Linked DNA regions of Homo sapiens. The protein of the gene in region 1 purifies or fractionates together with the protein of each later gene. This does not show direct contact. Each region holds a gene or a part of one and is shown in the gene's direction. Other genes may lie near its edges. The genes, in order: WDR1, HK1 and ATP6AP2.

Region 1 (2,635 bases):
AGCTGTGTGAGTACCGGGGCTGTCTCAGGGAAGGCGAGGGGTCAGGGGAAGGATGGGGGCAGTCGGGGCGTGGGACCTGCTCTGGGGCCCAGCCACGCCATCTCCTGCCACCCAGGGCTGGAGCCTTCCCCTCCCCTCCTCGGCACTTCCCCCACCTCACTGCCCGGGTGCCCACAAGACTGTGGACAGTGAGGTAGAGGGAGTGCCGAGGAGGGCACAGCTGTGCCTCAGAGCCAGCCCCATGAGTGGCGGCAGGAGGGGAGCGCAAGAGGGTAGCAGGTCAGGAAATCAAGGAATGGCATCCCCTGGGGCTGGGCTCGGCTCACAGGTTGAAGGAAGAGTGACAGAAGTTTCCCAGCATCTTCAAGGTGCGGTACTAACCAGACATTTTACAGTTTCCCTTGAGTTCTGCCTCGGCATAATTCTCATGCCCTTGAATTTGTGTGTGTGGTCTGGTCACAGTGTGCCTGGCCAAGTCCTGAGTGCTCTGTAGAAGAGCTCATTTCCCCTCTCCAGCCCAGGAGGGCAGCCCTCTGATAACCCAGTCCTGCAGCAGGCGTGGCAGTGCCCTCCATGCTAGGGGCTGGGTGGGTCTATGTGCTGCCAGGTCCTTCAGGTGCCGGATGTGACCAGGGCATGGAGTGGCTTCCTCCACCAGCCAGCTTGAGGGCCTCATGAGACCAGCGGTGCCCCGAGGTACCAACAGCTGTTTTCATAGAGCTGCGTAGGTTTCAGGCCCATCCACGGGAAGAGCCATGCCCAGCTCCTGGCATGGGCCCAGCAGAGCAGCAGTCAGTGGGAACGGCACAGTTTCTTAAGCCCTCGACCCCCCCTTCACAAAGGATGGGTGTGGTGTGTGTGTTCAGGGGTGGCTCACTTCCTCTCTGTCCCTGCCGTAGGACGGCAACGTCCGCCTGTATTCCATCCTGGGCACCACGCTGAAGGATGAGGGCAAGCTCCTAGAGGCCAAGGGCCCCGTGACCGACGTGGCCTACTCCCACGACGGCGCCTTCCTCGCGGTGTGCGACGCCAGCAAGGTGGTCACAGTGTTCAGCGTTGCTGACGGCTACTCGGTGAGTGGCGGCGGGCTCCTCCTCTGTCCCCGTGCTGGGCGGTGCAGGTGGCAGTGGGAGGTTATCTGTGACTTGGTGACCTTGAGCTGAGCCTGTCTGAGCTGTAGTTTTCTTGCCTCTACAAGTAGCAGGTGCCTCGTGCCATGCTTCTGAGGAGTCAGTGGGTTTGCAGGGGTCGCTGGCATAGAGTTAGCGCGTGAGAAACCTCGGTCCTTATTGTCGCCATGAGGGATAAGCGAGGTGATATGGGCAACTGCGGCCTGAACCTGACCTGCCACCTCTCTTGTTTTCAACCTGCAACTAGGAGAACAATGTTTTTTATGGACACCATGCAAAAATCGTCTGCCTGGCCTGGTCCCCAGACAATGAACACTTTGCCTCCGGTGGCATGGACATGATGGTGTATGTTTGGACCCTGAGTGACCCGGAAACCAGAGTCAAGATCCAAGGTGACTTCCGCCCCCAGGCCTTGGCAGGGACCACCCATGGTTCGGGGCTCCATGGGCCACCTCACAGGCTGTCCCCTGGCTTCAGTCCCCAGGGCTAAGTAGCCTCTGTGCTTCTAGACAGGTGGCCCGGAAGAGTTGTGGGTCTCCTTCCATCCAGCAAACACCAGCTGCGCTGCTGGCCGTACTGAGGGACCACGGGGGCCCCATGCACAGGACACCTGCTGAGCTGAGTGAAGGCCTCACTTTTGACATCTTCACTTCCCCCACTCACCCCTTAAATCCCACCTGGGACCAGGGTCTCCCCCTCCCTAAGACAGCCACGTCCAGTGTATAATGTGAGCCTCATGTGGCGTTGAAATTTCCTGGTAGCCACATTTAAAAAAGAAACAGGTGAAATGATTTGTAACAGTAGGTTTTATTTAGCCCCGCATGTCATCATTTCTCCCTGAGGGGGTTGTGATGTCCCCGCGTGGCCATGCACGTATTGTAAGGCAGCTCTGTGTTGTCCAAACCCTCCCCTCCCCGAGTGCCCCCCTACCACTCTCCTCCTAGTGTGTAGTCAAGTCCCCTCATCCATTCTCCTTGAAGACATCCTTTTGTGTTAAACATTAATGGGGCCCTTTCCTATTTAAAAATGTCTGAGCCCACCCCCAGAGCCCATTCCCCAGCTGCAGGCTTCAGGTGCAGGACAGGCAAAGAGGGAAGGCAGCCCGGTCTGGAAGGGAGGAGAGACAAAGCAGGTTTCAACGTCCGTCCTGGTTTATAAGGCAATCGCCAGTCTGGTAGTGAGAATCAAACAAGTTCATGAATGAAATGGATCCAGAAAAAAATACAGCAAGAGCTAGTCAGATAGAGATTAGGAGGTCGGGGTCTGTGTCTTCACTGTGAGGTCACAGGCCACCAAACATGAAGTGACCTCAGCATCGGGTTCTCGTGCAGATAGTTGAGTTCTGCATCTGGAAAAGAGCCAGCCTGGTGATGTGGACAGAGTGCTAAAGCCTGGCCTCACAGCCAAGTCATGCTTGGTGGTTGAAGGCGCTCCTGGGCACCTGTGCCACCCGCAGGCCAAGGCTTCCTTCATCAGGATGTATGCCGTGCCAGGCAGGGGTGGGG
Region 2 (3,655 bases), on another chromosome or scaffold:
GCAGGCGGATCATGAGGTCAGGAGATTTGAGACCATCCTGGCTAACATGGTGAAACCCGATCTCTACTAAAAATACAAAAAATTAGCTGGGTGTGGTGGCATATGCCTGTAATCCCAGCTACTTGGGAGGCTGAGGCAGGAGACTCACTTGAACCCAGGAGGTGGAGGTTGCAGTGAGCTGAGATCGCGCCACTGCACTCCAGCCTGGCCTGGCAACAGAGCGAGACTGCATCTCAATAAATAAGTAAATTACTTACTTTCCTTTTATCCATCCTTTATGTTGGGGCATTATATTGATTTATTTGAAATTATGTGTGTAAGAGGGCCATATGGATTCCATTTCAGATGGTAAAGATGCACTACACATACTTGTATTGGGGGTGCATAGGGCCCACCTGGATTTATCTGAAAGGCAGCCTGGGGTTCAGTGCCAGGCCACCCAGGAGCTGATGCCCCTCAGCAAGTTGTTCCACCTTCTTTCTACTTTTCTCCTGTCCAGGGTACATTTCTTCCTGGCCTTTGCTGTCTTCTAAGGCACGCTGTGTGAGAAGGAGGAAAAAAGGGTCAGAAAAAACAAAAGCAATTGTGCAAATACTGTGTTCTTCTTAGAATGGTCATAATAACCTAACGTAGGCTCTGTGTAGGCTGGGCACGGTGGCTCATGCCTGTAATCTCAACACTTTAGGAGGCCAAAGCAGGTGAATCACTTGAGTTCAGGTGTTCGAGACCAGCCTGGTTAACATGGCAAGACCCCATTTCTACAAAAAGTGCAAAAACTAGCCGGGCGTGGTGGCACATTCCTGTGGTCCCAGCTATTTGGGAGGCTGAGGTGGGAGGATGGCTTGAGCCCGGTGGCGGAGGTTGCAATGAGCTGAGGTTGCACCACTGCACTCCATCCTGGGCGACAGAGACAGACTCTGTCTCAAAAAAAAAAAAAAAAGAGAAAGAAAAGAAAAAAAATATTAAACCTTAAACAAAAAAAAACCTAACAAGCCTATACACTGCTCTTACCCAGGCAAAATGGTTTTTAAGTATACAGTTCGGTGACATTAAGTACATTCACATAGTCGCACAGCTATCACCACCATCCATTTCCGGAACTCTTTTCATCTTCTCAGCTGAAACTCTGTACGCAGCAAACACTAACTCCACATTCCTCCCTCCCCCCACCCCAGCAACCACCATTCTACTCTCTGTCTCTATGGATTTGACAACTCTGGATACTTCATATAAATAGAATCATACAGCATTTGTCCTTTGTGACTGGCTTAATTCACTTAGCATAATGTCTTAAGGTTCATCCGTATTGTGGCATGTGTTAGAATTTCCTTATTTTTTTATTTTTATTTTTTGAGACGGAGTTTCACTCTTGTTGGCCAGGCTGGGGTGCAATGGTGCAAACTTGGCTCGCCATAACCTCTGCCTCCTGGGTTCAAGCGATTCTCCTGCCTCAGCCTCCTGAGTAGCTGGGATTACAGGCGTGCGTCACCATGCACGCCCGGCTAATTTTGTATTTTTAGTAGAGATGGGGTTTCCCCATGTTGATCAGGGTGGTCTCAAACTCCCGACCTCAGGTAATCTGCCCACCTTGGCCTCCCAGAGTGCTGGGATTACAGGCATGAGCCACCACGCCCGGCCATAATTTCCTTATTTTTAAGGCTGAGTGATATTCCATTGCATGCACACACTGCATTTTGTTTATTCATTCATCCATCCATGGACACTTGGCTTGCTTCCACCTTTTGGATATTGTGACAAATGCTGCTGTGAACACGGGTGACCAGTATCTCCTTTCAGTTTGTGTGTGTGTGTGTACGCACCCCAAGTGGACTTGCGGGATCATATGGTAATTCCCTGTTCAGTTGTTTGTGGAACCACCATGTTGTTTTCCACAGTGGCTGTAACATTTTACATTCCCACCAGCAGCCCGTGAAAGTTCTAGTTTCTCCACATCCTCGCCAACACTTGTTATTTTCTGAGTTGAGAATAGCCATCCTAATGGGTATGAAGTGGTATGGAAAGTCTTTTCAAGCATAATAGCAAAGAAAGAAATCATAAAGAAAAATGGCCAAATATAGCTACATAGTGTCTGTAAGTAAAAAAAAAAAGTAATCAAACTTAAAAGGCAACGGTAAACTGAGGAAGACATTTGTACTGTGTATGACAAGACGCCTAGCAGGGCATGGTGGGCTTTGGCAGGTCTGGTCTACACCTGCTCTTCTCCACCGGCTGTGTGCTTTGCAATACTCAATTTCTCCCAGCCTCAGTTGCCTTATCTTTAAAATGGGAATAATCATACATTCATTGGTTGTTTGAGGAGTAAGTAAGGTAATGTATGTAAAATATATGTTACATGGTAAGTCCTCCAAGAAGCCTGGCTGGTCTTCATTGTACCATCCCAGTTATCGTCTCTTTCAATTTAATATAAATAAGACAAATATATCAGGAGAAAAGTCTTGAGACGTAAGAAGTAGTTTATATGGCCAAAAAACAAATGGAAAAAAAAGAGATCATCCTCACTAATAGAGAATAATATAAATTGAACTACAGTCTTGTGATGCCTTCTTATAAAACTGTCAAAAGTTGTAAAAAAATGCTCTTTTCCAGTGAGGATAAGTGTGGCCAAATACTCTGCTGAAGAGTAAATGGATACAATTTTCTGTAAGGCATCTGGCAATGTGTAGCAAAAGCTCGTTGACCCAGAAATTTATCCTAAGGAAAAACATCAGAATTGCACACAAAGATTTATAAACAAACCTTATCAAAATGTTTCTTTATAATAGCAGAAAATTGCAATTAACTTGAATTTCTCCAAGCTGGCTAAAGAAATCATGGTGCATCCCTAGAGGGAATACTGCAGCAGCTGTTTCCAATCCTGTTCTCAGATAAGGCTGTGGGAAATTGCTCAATGCATGAAACAGGAAAGAGAAAGAAAATCACATATCAAGGATAATCCCATTTTGCATATCATGAGAAGCATACCAGCTAGGAAAAATAAACTGGAAGGAAATATATTAAAATGTTAATAGCATTTTCCTAGATGTTGAGATAGTGAATGGTTTAGATTTTCCAATTTTTATTTTGCTAGATTTGCCAAATTCTCCACAGTTTAACATGTAACACTTGCCCTTGACTCTGTCTGTGGATGAGTACAGTGATTGGGGGCGGGGGGCGTCCTTTGGACGTGGTCTCCAGGCTGCTCTTGTGGGTCCTGCTTCATCCAGCCCTCTGGCTCTTGTCCCCCACAGTGACCGATTAGCACTGCTCCAGGTCCGGGCTATCCTCCAGCAGCTAGGTCTGAATAGCACCTGCGATGACAGTATCCTCGTCAAGACAGTGTGCGGGGTGGTGTCCAGGAGGGCCGCACAGCTGTGTGGCGCAGGCATGGCTGCGGTTGTGGATAAGATCCGCGAGAACAGAGGACTGGACCGTCTGAATGTGACTGTGGGAGTGGACGGGACACTCTACAAGCTTCATCCACAGTGAGTGGGCCTTCCAGTTGGGATGCGCAGAGCTTGCTGGGATCCCTTTGGGTTAGGGGGTATCAGGGTGTGGTTTACGCTGGGGAAATGCCCTGCGGGAGCCCAGCCAGGCTGAAGGCTGTGCGTTCAGGAGCTGGGGATTGTCTAGGACAAGGTAATGAACAGTTTGTAGG
Region 3 (3,655 bases), on another chromosome or scaffold:
AATGTGTGCGGGAGTGGTGTGGTGCCCACATCCTATGGGCTCTGCTTTTCTAGCAGGCACATTGTCTTTGTGGCGTAGTCCCTCACTTACTGAGATCCTCTGTGTGCACCTCTTTATGATTTTGATTTACTTAACAGTTTTTTTGGGTATGGATCTTGCTTTGATTTTAAGCATTTAGAGGGTCAGGGTTAAGCATTACCATGGTTGCTGGCCATGGTAAAATACATATCTGTTTATGTGTATGTACGTGCACATTTACATACATACATATATACTTACAGCTGCAGCAGAACCTAGGGAGGGTGATGGGAAAGAGTAGTGTAGATGCTCCCTAACATCCTACGTCTGAGAACATTGCTTAGGGCTGGCTGTATCACTTGCAGCAGATAGATATCCACTCAATTACATACACCTCCGCTTCAGACCCATTTGCAGCCCTCACCCTGCTCAGTTTTACTGAAGTCAGTGTGGGACTTGGAGTCGGAAGGTCGAAGCCAGTGCCTGTTTGAGATAGTCTAGCGATTACTGGTTTGAGATTGTTTCTTTCTAAATTAAATTGGGGATGGAAGGACCTTTGTTTCAGACAGCATGTCAGTCTAGACAACCACCCAAGATTTCCCACCATAAAACGTCTAGAAATGCTAGATAAAAATAAAGATCTTTTAAAAAGTACATAGTTTGGGCTGGGTGTGGTGGCTCACGCCTGTAATCCCAGCACTTTGGGAGGTTGAGGCGGGCGGAACACCTGAGGCCAGGAGTTCTAGACCAGCCTGGGCAACATGGTGAAACCCCGTCTCTACTAAAAATACAAAAATTAGCCTGGTGTGGTAGCGGGCACCTGTAATCCCAGCTACTTGGAAGGCTGAGGCAGGAGAATTGCTTGTACCCGGGAGGCAGAGGTTGCAGTGAGCCAAGATTGCACCACTGCACTCTAGCCTGGGAGACACAGCAAGACTCCGTCTCAAATAAAAAAAAAATTACAAAAATAAAAATACATAGTTCAGCTCGCAAGAAAGGGAAATTCTCTTACAGAGTAAATAAAGAAGAGGAGGCCGGGTGCGGTGGCTCACACCTGTAATCCCAGCACTTTGGGAGGCCGAGGTGGGTGGATCACAAGGTTAGGAGTTCGAGACCAGCCTGGCCAACATGGTGAAACTCCGTCTCTACTAAAAACACAAAAAATCAGCCGGGCGTGGTGGCGCACGCCTGTAGTCCCAGCTACTTAGGAGTCTGAGGCAGACAAATCGCTTGAACCCGGGAGGCGGAGGTTGCAGTGAGCTGAGATTGTGCCACTGTACTCCAGCCTGGGTGACACAGTGAGACTCCATCTCAAAAAAAAAAAAAAAAACCGAATGTGGTAAGCAGGCCGCCCTAAGGATATTTGCCAGCTGGGTCACCAAGAGTCCTTTGGTGCCTTGTGTGTGGGGGATGGGAATGGACAACTCCAGATAAAGCTGGGGACCCCGAGAGAGCTGTGCCCTCAGTGAGAGGGTAGACTGGAAATTTTTGCCCACCAGCACAGGGAAACAGAAAGGCACCTGGGCTCTGGGTGGTCAGCACATGTGTTGAGAGTGGGGATGCCTCCCAGAGAATTCTTTTTTTTTTTTTTTTTTTTTTTTTTTTGGATTTTTTGGAGATAGGATCTTACTCTGTCACCCAGACTGGAGTGCAGTGGCACAATCTCAACTCACTGCAGCCTCCACCTCCCAGATTCAAGTGATTCTCCTGCCTCAGCCTCCTGAGTAGCTGGAATCACAGGCATGCACCACCACACCCGGCTAATTTTTGTACTTTTAGTAGAGATGGGGTTTTACCATGTTGGCCAGGCTGGTCTTGAACTCCTGGCCTCAAGTGATTTGCTCACCTCAGCCTCCCAAAGTGCTGGGATTACAGGTGTAAGCTACCATGCCCGGCCTATGAGATTTCTTTTTAGGGTGATAGAAATGTTCTAGAATTAGATTGTGGTGATAACTATGAAACCACTAAAATTCCTTGACTTGTACACTTAAAATGGGTAGGAAAAAGAACATGTTTATCAAAAAAAAAAAAAGGAAAGAAACAAAGAGGTCTTCATGGGCGTGAAATCCTTTAACGTTTGCCTCAGCTCTGAGCTCCCCGCAGGTAAATATGCATGCCTGTGTACCCATTCTCTCCTACATTTGAAATCACTCTCTTCCATTAGTTTAAGGAGACAGGAGTTTAAGGAACATTTACTGAGTACTCACAACATTCCAGGTGCTGGGGCTGTAGGGACAAATAGATCTCGGTTACATTTTCGTTCTCATCCTCACTGCCAGGCACCCTGCCCCCATTTCTCCCACCTCATTTGACTGCCGCCTCCTAACTTGTCTGAACTCATCTGTCTCTCTGCTTCCCAGCTGGCTCCTCCCAAATCCATCCTACACATTGTCATCAAAGTTATCTTTTTTCTTTTCTTTTTTTGAGACAGGGTCTCGCCCTGTCCCAGGCCGGAGTGCAGTGGCGCAATCATAGCTCACTGTAGCCTCAAACTCCTGGGCTCAGGTGATCCACCTGTCTGAGCCTCCTGAGTAGCCAGTTCTATAGGCTTGAGCCACCACACTCAGCTAATTTTTAATTTTAATGTTATCTTTTTAAGACAAACCTGATCATGTCACTCACTTTCTGCCTAAAGCTTGTCAATGGCTCCTTATTGCCCAGAGGCTCATGTCAGATTTTCTGTAGCTTCCCTGCTTCTAGCTTCATCTCCTGCTGTGTTCCTACTTTTAAAATTCTCTAGCCAGAATGAATGATATTTCCCAAACAGTGCCTTTGTCAGAATGAATTCAGTTTCCCAAACAATGTTTTTACACAGCTCTGTATTTTAAAAAAAAGTGTTAAGTGGATCATACATACATAAGTATATAACATATTTAATACTAGTTATTTAAATAATAAAAATAATAACACTGTATAGCTCCGTTTTCATATGGCTATAAAGAGCTACCTGACACTGGGTAATTTATAAAGGAAACAGGTTTGATTGATTCACAGTTCCACATGGCTGGGGAGGCCTTAGGAAACTTACAATCATGGAGGAAGGGGAAGGGGAGGCAGGCACCTTCTTCACAAGGTGGCAAAAGAGAGAGAAAGTGGCACACTTTTAAACCATCAGAGCTCATGAGAACTCAGTATCATGAGAACAGTATGGGGGAAACTGCCCCCATGATCCAATCACCTCCCACCAGGTCCCTCTCTCGACACGTGGGGATTACAAATCGAGATGAGATTTGGGTGGGGACACAGAGCCAAACCATATCAATAGCTTAAGAGAATGCTTGCTTCTTTGAAGCTCCCTATTTTCTCCCTCTACCCTCCCTCATCCAGAGGTAACTGCTGTCCTGGATATCATGTTAATCCCTTGCTTTTCTTTACAGATTGACTGCATATGTATTTGTTCTTAAACAGTGTTGTTTGGTTTTGCCTGTATTTGAATTTTATATAAATTGAATCATACTACATGTATTTTTCTGTGTTCTTTGTTCAGTATTCTTTTTAAGATTCACTCAGGCTGACAAATGTAGCTGTAGTTTAGTCATTTTACTGTTACATATTCTGCTTGTAGGGATATACCACAATTCCATTCTGTTGATGATTTTTTTTTTTTTTTTTTTGAGACGGAGTTTTGCTCTTGTTG

What was found.
Region 2: the proteins of WDR1 (region 1) and HK1 fractionate together in Homo sapiens (co-fractionation; one large-scale study listed by BioGRID). This does not show direct contact.
Region 3: the proteins of WDR1 (region 1) and ATP6AP2 fractionate together in Homo sapiens (co-fractionation; one large-scale study listed by BioGRID). This does not show direct contact.

The regions. Positions count from the first base shown.
Region 1 is NC_000004.12:10,076,191-10,078,825, reverse strand, and holds part of WDR1 (WD repeat-containing protein 1), read left to right. Parts: intron 1-133; exon of another isoform or gene 134-215; intron 216-899; coding exon 900-1,073; intron 1,074-1,377; coding exon 1,378-1,522; intron 1,523-2,635.
Region 2 is NC_000010.11:69,395,347-69,399,001, forward strand, and holds part of HK1 (hexokinase-1), read left to right. Parts: intron 1-3,248; coding exon 3,249-3,482; intron 3,483-3,655. UniProt on the Homo sapiens protein: Catalyzes the phosphorylation of various hexoses, such as D-glucose, D-glucosamine, D-fructose, D-mannose and 2-deoxy-D-glucose, to hexose 6-phosphate (D-glucose 6-phosphate, D-glucosamine 6-phosphate, D-fructose 6-phosphate, D-mannose 6-phosphate and 2-deoxy-D-glucose 6-phosphate, respectively).
Region 3 is NC_000023.11:40,601,319-40,604,973, forward strand, and holds part of ATP6AP2 (renin receptor precursor), read left to right. Parts: intron 1-3,655. UniProt on the Homo sapiens protein: Multifunctional protein which functions as a renin, prorenin cellular receptor and is involved in the assembly of the lysosomal proton-transporting V-type ATPase (V-ATPase) and the acidification of the endo-lysosomal system.